Linked DNA regions of Homo sapiens. The protein of the gene in region 1 purifies or fractionates together with the protein of each later gene. This does not show direct contact. Each region holds a gene or a part of one and is shown in the gene's direction. Other genes may lie near its edges. The genes, in order: LCN8 and NUB1.

Region 1 (4,380 bases):
AGAAGGCCCTGGCCGAGGGAGCAGGACGCAGGGGTGAGAGGGCAGGAGGCAGGGGTGAGAGGCCCTGGGGAGGGGCAGGGGGCAGGGGTGAGGGGCCCTGGGAAGGGGCAGGGGGCAGGGGTGAAGGGCCCTGGGTGAGGGGGCAGGGGACAGGGGTGAGGGGCCCTGGGGAGGGGCAGGAGGCAGCAGCCACTCTTGGCCTGTGTGGGGGCTGCACCCACAGGAAGAATGGAGCATCCTGGCCCAGTCCCTATGGGTCTGCAGTGCTGTGGGGAACTGGGCACCCTGTGAAGACGGCCCGGCCACTGGGGCTGTGCTGGGCACACAGGCCCCGGTGCCGGGGGGGGAGCTGGGGGAGCTGCAGGAGGCCGGGGAGTTAGGCCCACTTGGGTTTTGCCCCTCACCACTGATATGATCGTGGGCACCTGGTTTACACCCCTGGAAATGGGTCACCGTTGTGGCCAGGGGACTGCCAGCCAGCCTGAGCGCTCCACAGCAGACCCACAGACATAGGTAGCTACCCAGCGTACTCCTCATTTCAAAGATCAGGAAACTGGCCTGGCGCGGTGGCTCATGCCTGTAATCCCAGCACTTTGGGAGGCCGAGGCGGGTGGATCACTTGAGGCCAGGAGTTTGAGACCAGCCTGGCCAACATGGCAAAACCCCGTCCCTACTAAAAATACAAGACTTAACCGGGCGTGGTGGCGCACACCTGTAGTCCCAGCTACTCAGGAGGCTGAGGCAGGAGAATCGCTTGAACCCAGGAGGCAGAGGCTGCAGTGAGCTGAGATTGTGCCACTGCACTCCAGCCTGGGCGATGGAGCAAGACTCTGTCTCAGGAAAAAAAAAAAAAGAAAAAAAAAATCAAGAAACCGAGGCACAGAAGGGTTGGGTAACTTATCCAAGGCTGCACAGCCAGGAAGAGGCCAGGCGGGCTGCAAGCCTGGGTGATCAGGCTCCAGGGCCGGGCTCCACACTGCCCCCGGGTGGTGATGCCTGGTGCAGCAGAGGCCCTCCCCACTGTCACTGTCACTCTGGTCGCTGGCGCTGTGCCTCCGGCCTCCGGAGCTCTGACTGCCCACTGCGTCTGGCACACATTTCAAAGGGCCAGGCGTGGGGTGGCACAGGAAAGTGCTGGAGGCTCTGGTCCGTTGCCCATCAGTGCCCACAGCCCTCGCAGCGCAGGCCAGAACGAGCCCAAAAAAACAAGTGTCATGTGGGGTGGGGGTCACCGAGCCCCAGGTGGTGTGGGTGGAGCTCCTCTTCCTCTCAGGCTCCGAGACGGCCCCAGCAGCGTCCACCGCTGTCCATATGCCAGGAGGGTGGCTGGGCAGGCTGCTGTCTAGGCCAGGCTAACCCCTGCGGTGGGCGTGGGTGTCACCAGGGCCGATGGCGCTTGTGCAGAAACCCACGTCTCTGAGCTGCCAGCAGCCAAGCTGTCCTGATGACATTCCCGGGTGGGCGCACAAGCCTGCACTGTCCGTATAGAATCGGCCCAGGCTGTGCAGCAGGGGAACCCGGAGCCCGGACCCCGCCACGGAGGCCAGGCTGCCGTGCACCATCCTGGGTGTCCTCGTGGTGCTCCGGGCGCAGGTGGCAGCAGCCATGGAGGAGCTGGACCGGCAGAAGGTGGCTTCTCCTTCTTAGTTGGTGGGGCTCCTCCTACACCCCCAACCCCTCAGGCTCAGGGAAGGAGGCCTCTCCCGGTGTGGGGAGCTCGTGGGGACGCTGGTGCCCGGCTAGACACTTCCTGTTAGCGGCATTTTCTTCTCCGCTGAGTCTGTGCCGGCTGCTGGGCCAGAGGCACATTAGCAGGCCCAGAGAAGGTAGATGCCGGAGACGAAGATTCTTTCCTCCCGAAAATGGTAGGGTTTTTAAAAGTCTCAGCGGAAGTCCCGGCTCTGGGCGGGTTGCTGAGGGCAGGAGGCCCATCCTCTGGCGTGGTTGGCAGGCTGGCGAGCTGCGCTACCCGAGCCACCTGTTCTCTGGCGTTTCTCACTCCGCCGCGCCCTGCGGGCTTTCTTTTCCAGGCCTCTGCTCCTGGGTCCTGCCTCCGAGGTCAGGCAGGGCCTGTGGTTCCTCCCGACATGTCGCAGAAGCCCTAGGGACTGTTCCGCAGCTCTAGATGGCCCAGTGGGGAGGGGCTGCCCTGTGGGCATTGCTGTCTGATGGCCTGAAGGCACCGCTTGGAGGGACACATGCCTGGGGACAGTGGGCTCACAGATGTCTTGCTGCTTTGCCACCGAGCCTCACAGCCATCTGCTGACCTCTCAGAGCCCAGCAGGCCCCTGCCCGGGGGTTCGTGGAATGCCCCTGGGGGTCTCAGACCCACTGCTCAGCTCTTGGCCAGGCTCCGTATCTCTCTAGATTGGAGGATTCTGGAGGGAAGTCGGTGTGGCCTCCGATCAAAGCCTGGTGCTGACGGCCCCGAAGCGGGTGGAGGGCTTGTTCCTCACCTTGAGCGGGAGTAACCTGACCGTGAAGGTTGCATATAACAGGTAAGAGGCCTGGGGGCTGCTGGAGAGGAAGAGGCATGCATGGCCGGGGACTGGGCGTGGGTTGCTGCACCCGCTGCAGCGTGGGGTCTGGGCTGAGTGCCGTCCCGCTGGTGGGCCAGCACTCCCGGTGCCCGTCTGCCTGAGCCCTCGACCCCCAGGCTCCTGGATCTGCATTTTATCCCAAATATAAGCATAGTGTTTTAATGAAGCCCCGTGAACTTAGAAGGAAGGAAAAGGGGTGTGGGACAGGTGACTGGCTGGAGGGAACAGAATCCCCAGGGGAAGGCCCCACCTGGCACATTCCCCGCCTCATCCTGCTCCAGGCCTGGGATACTCCACAGTGCTGCCTGTGCCCTTCCTAAAGACACAGCCCCACTCCGGGAAGGAGCCCAGCAGGCGGGACACAGGCTAGCATTTTACCGATGGGCACTTTGCTGCCTTTCAGCTCAGGAAGCTGTGAGATAGAGAAGATCGTGGGCTCAGAAATAGACAGTACGGGAAAATTCGCTTTTCCTGGTAAGTGCAGTTGCCCTGTGATGGCAGGTGGAACCCGGCTGTGCACACAGCTAGGCCTTATTGTTCCCCATGCTGTTCCCTGCACTGTTCCCCATGCTGTTCCCTGCACTGTTCTCTGTGCTGTTCCCTGCACTGTTCCCCATGCTGTTCCCTGAACTATTCCCTGTGCTGTTCCCCATGTTGTTCCCTGCACTGCTCCCTGCACTGTTCCACATGCTGTTTCCTGCACTATTCCCCATGCTGTTCCCTGCACTTTTCTCTGCGCCATTCCCCATGCGTTCCCTGCACTGTTCCCTGCACTGTTCCCCATGCTGTTCCCTGCGCTGTTCCCCATGCTGTTCCCTGCACTGTTCCTCATGCTGTTCCCTGCGCTGTTCCACATGCTGTTCCCTGCGCTGTTCCCCATGCTGTTCCCTGCACTGTTCCCCATGCTGTTCCCTGCAATGCTCCCTGCACTGTTCCCCGCACTGCTCCCTGCACTGTTCCCCATGCTGTTTCCTGCACTATTCCCCATGCTGTTCCCTGCACTTTTCTCTGTGCCGTTCCCCATGCATTCCCTGCACTGTTCCCTGCACTGTTCCCCATGCTGTTCCCTGCAATGCTCCCTGCACTGTTCCCCGCACTGCTCCCTGCACTATTCCCCATGCTGTTCCCTGCACTTTTCTCTGTGCCGTTCCCCATGCATTCCCTGCACTGTTCCCTGCACTGTTCCCCATGCTGTTCCCTGCACTGTTCCCCATGCTGTTTCCTGCACCGTTCCCCATGCTGTTCCCTGCAGGGTTCCCTGCACTGTTCCCCATGCTGTTCCCTGCACATTTCATGCCCCAGACCTTCCCATTCTCCCACCAACACACTGGATCATCCTTCAAAAGCTTCTGTAGTGTCTCCAACCACTCAAGTGCTGGGACTGGGTGGGGGCAGGATGGAGTTAGACCCTGCAGACCCTGGCCTTCGAGGTCCGTCCCCCTCAGACGTCTCCCCCAACGCCATGGCCGGCTCTTGAAGGCCACAGAGAGATCCACGTGCTGGACACCGACTACGAGGGCTACGCCATCCTGCGGGTGTCCCTGATGTGGCGGGGCAGGAACTTTCGCGTCCTCAAGTACTTTAGTAAGCTTGGCCCTGGGGGGCTCTGCCCAGCTGCTGCTCTCCCAGGGACTGCCCGCCCAGCCCCCCTGTGCCCCACAGCTCGGAGCCTTGAGGACAAGGACCGGCTGGGGTTCTGGAAGTTTCGGGAGCTGACAGCAGACACTGGTCTCTACCTGGCGGCCCGGCCTGGTGAGCCCAGGGGCCTTGGGGTGGAGGCTGGGCTGGGCCCTGTGGGCTGACTCTGCAGCTCCTCATGCTGGCCTATCCTGCAGGGCGG
Region 2 (3,806 bases), on another chromosome or scaffold:
CCTCTGTGAGCGTCCTCTTAAGATAGGTAGGGCAGGTATTATCTTCATTTTATAAAAGAGAAAATTGAGGCTTTGAGGTTGAAGGACTTATTAGAGCTGTCACTGGTAGGTAAGTGGCAAAGTGAGGACTCAAGACTTGCAAGCACTATTTCCTGGTGTAACTTCCGAGCAGGTGGGAACTCCATGCCTATCATATGGTAGGCACTTGGTGCATGTTTGAGTGAATGAGTGAGTGATACAAGCAGGAGACACCTGGTACTCACTAGCTCATTAGTTTTGAATTACTATTTTTTTTCCCTAATGTATTAATAGCTTGCTATGACCTTCAGCACGGTGTTTTATCTGATTTCAGGCTGTTGGCCCATCTGTAAAACACACACACACACACACACGTTTGCCACATACTAGTGAAATCCTAACTTTGAGATCTGGTGGGTTATTTCATCTCCTTGTATGTTTTAAAATGGTGTTTGGAGCACCTCCAGGGCTAGCTAGCGGGTGTATTTCTTCAGCTGATTTTTCTCATTTCCTTCTTTGGTCTACATCAGGGCTGTCAGGGGTGGATTCAGGAAGTGGCATGCAACACACATGCGTAGAAGACCCTGTGGATCAGCCCCCGCTATGGGCTTCTCCAGGGAGACCACAGAAGGTATAGGTAGATTTTCTCCGGATGTGCAACTAGGGCTTCCTGTTCACATGGATCTACAGCACTGTGGTCTCCACTGCCTGAGGAAACAAGCAGTAAAACGGAAAGTTTAAAAAGGACCTTGTCTCCTACAGTTTCAAATAGCCGTCTAGTAAGATGGCTTTATTGTGATGTTTGTGAGTCAGTCAGTTGAAATCCTGGGTGTTTCTGATAAAATGGATAAAAGAGCTATCATGATTAAAGCCTTCTTTTAAAAAATATTTATTTTTTAGAGACAGGATCTTGCTCTGTCACCCAAGCTGAAGCACAGTGGCATAAATATAGCTCATTGCAACCTCAAACTCGCGGTTCAAGCAATCCTCCTACCCAAACCTCCCAAGCAGCTAGGGCCACAGGCATGGGCTACCAGGCCTGGCTAATTTTTAAAAATTTTTTGTAGAGATAGGATCTCTCTGTTGCCCAGGCTGGTCTTGAATTCCTGGGCTCAAGCCATCCTCCCACCTTGGCCTCCCAGGGTGTTGGGATTACAGGCGTGAGCCACCGGGCCTGGCTAATGTCTTTTTAATGGATAATAAATCGCAATTTTGTTTTCCTACAATTTTCACTGGTTTTATTTTACAGAATAGCTGAAACCTTTGGACTTCAAGAAAATTATATCAAAATTGTCATAAATAAGAAGCAACTACAACTAGGTATGTATGGCAAAGTATGCATAATTTTTTAATGAACCAAATATAGAAATAATGACTTCCCTTTTTTTCTCAATGTCTTTTCAAAAATTTGTAGCTTTATTTCATTTATAATCCAAAAGTGATTTAGAAGTTTACTAAAATAAAAATGTAAAGCAGAAAATAGCTTTTCCAATAAATATTTACTGTCTGTTCTATGATAGTGGGAAGAAAGACACTCATTACAGCTTAGATAAAATGTTAGAGAATGGAATGTAAGGTGTGCTGAGTGTAAGATGCCAGTTCCAGCAAATTCTTCTTGAAGGAGAAGAGCTAAGGCTGTGTCAGGACAGTGGGGAGGCCATGGTGGCGTGCGTTCCAGACTGAGAGCCTTATGTCAGAGCACTATGGTGTGAATTTGAGGAACTGAGGAAGGTCCAGTGTGGCTGTGTGTGGAGAATGAGGGGAGGGGAGTGCTTTTTAAGGATGGAGGGGCAAGCAGAGGCCACACTGTGAATTCCCAGGAGACATTTGGCATTGTCTGGAGACATTTGTGGTGCTTATAACTTGGTGACGGGGGAGGTTGTGCTGCTGTCATTTAGTGGGTGGAGGCTAGGGATGCTGCTGAATGTGCAATGCCCAGAACAGGCCCCACAACAAAGACTTGTCCAGTCCCAGATGTCAGTAGCGCAGCTGTTGGGAAACGAGAAACTAGATGACCTTCCTCAGTGTTAGTACATTTCTCCTAAGATACATGGGAAGACATCTGTGCTGCGGAGTGATACACAATTCTGTTTGTGTTTTAGAAAGGTCACGCAGTAGGGGAATGTATTTGAAGGTGGCATGAGTTGACTTGGGGAGACCAGTTAGCTACTGCAGCCATCCATACAAGCACTGTAGCCCACTGGTTTCCAGTGCGTTCCTGTGGCCTCGAGAATGAAGTCCACATTTCTTAGCTTGATCTAAGACAGCCCTTCACAGCTCACCCTAGCCTTGCTTTCCAGCGTCATCTCTAGCAATTTCCCATTGTCTATTTTAGATGTCATGGATATCTTTTCACTGTTGCCTCATCCCTCTGTTAATTCTGTTTGTGGCATCCTTCATTGGACAGAAACCTTGATTTTGATGTCATCAAATCCATTGCCTATGGTTTGTGTTTTGTTGAAGTCCTTTCCCTAACCCCAGGGCCACAAGGATAGTCTACATTTTCTTGAATATTAGCTTAATCTATAAGAGGTCTTCAGTCTGTCCAGAGTCCCCCTTTCTATATAAAGTTTAAGGGTTCCTTTATTTTTCTTCCTATATAATTCATTAAATAGTCTGTCTTTTCCCTGCTGATTGGTGGTGACCCTTTTTGGGGGGCCCTGTTCCTATATTTTCTGTTCTTCCTACTCACCTGTGGTGTTTTTTATTACTGTGGCTTTGTTGCAGTCTTAAAATCTGGTGACCTCCCCCCACCCTTGCTTTTTTTTTTTTTTTAATCAAGATGGCTTAACCACTGGTGGACCTTTATTTTGTGTGTTAATGTTAGAAAGGTTGTCATATTTCTCAAAAGAAAAAAATCCAGCTAGTTTTCCAGAAATGTGTTCACATTTGTGTTTTTTAGTTCACAATATTATTTGTTATTTTAAAATCTGTTTGCATCTATGTTTACCCTTTTTTATTTTGTTTATTTGCATCTTTGACATAATTTTTGTTAGATTTGTGTATTTGGCTAATTTATTCATGGAGCCAGCTTTTGATTTTGTTACTGTTTTCTTTCATTCTGTTTCACTGATTTCTGCCCTTTATTTCTAATTTATGTATGAGGAAACTGAGTCCTAGAAGATAGGTAGTTTATTCAGGGCCACAGAGTTAAAACGGTAGATGGAGCCCATGGTCTTTGCTTTTATTTATTTATTTAGAGATAGGGTCTCTATCTGTCACCCAGGCTGGAGTGTGGTGTGCGATTGCAGCTCACTGCAGCCTCCACCTCCCAGGTGCAAGCAATCCTCCCACCTCAGCTTCCCACTGAGTAGCTAGGACCACAGGTGCATACCACCATGCCAGGCTAATGTTTTATTTTCTGTGGAGACGGGGTCCACTGTGTTGCCCAGGCTGATCTTGAACTCCGGGGCTCAAGTGATCCACCTGCCTCAGCCTGCCAAAGTACTGAGATTACAGGTGTGAACCACCACGCCCTGCTGGTCTTTGCTTTTAACCGTGACAGACTGCAGTACAGCTTCTTGTTTGTAGCTGTGAATTGGCTTTATTATTTTTTCAACTAGAGGGTAGGAGAGGTGTGTTATACTTTCTCATTTTCCGTTTATATTGTCTAGCACAATGTTCTCCCTGTAGTAGATTATCAAATATCTGTTGCTTTGATCTGGTCTTAGGCTGAGAATAAAGAAGATTAGAAAAGATGAATTTAGTTGATTCTATTGTCGCTAGCTGATTTTAACCACTGCTTAACAGTGACATAGTTACAACCAAATGTAGGCATATTTTTACCA

What was found.
Region 2: the proteins of LCN8 (region 1) and NUB1 purify together in Homo sapiens (affinity purification with mass spectrometry; one large-scale study listed by BioGRID and IntAct). This does not show direct contact.

Annotation. Positions count from the first base shown.
Region 1 is NC_000009.12:136,755,156-136,759,535, reverse strand, and holds the start of LCN8 (epididymal-specific lipocalin-8), read left to right. Parts: upstream 1-1,292; 5' UTR 1,293-1,605; coding exon 1,606-1,629; intron 1,630-2,367; coding exon 2,368-2,498; intron 2,499-2,943; coding exon 2,944-3,014; intron 3,015-3,083; exon of another isoform or gene 3,084-4,019; coding exon 4,020-4,124; intron 4,125-4,202; coding exon 4,203-4,292; intron 4,293-4,375; coding exon 4,376-4,380. UniProt on the Homo sapiens protein: May play a role in male fertility. May act as a retinoid carrier protein within the epididymis.
Region 2 is NC_000007.14:151,351,545-151,355,350, forward strand, and holds part of NUB1 (NEDD8 ultimate buster 1), read left to right. Parts: intron 1-422; exon of another isoform or gene 423-649; intron 650-1,267; coding exon 1,268-1,338; intron 1,339-3,806. UniProt on the Homo sapiens protein: Specific down-regulator of the NEDD8 conjugation system. Recruits NEDD8, UBD, and their conjugates to the proteasome for degradation. Isoform 1 promotes the degradation of NEDD8 more efficiently than isoform 2.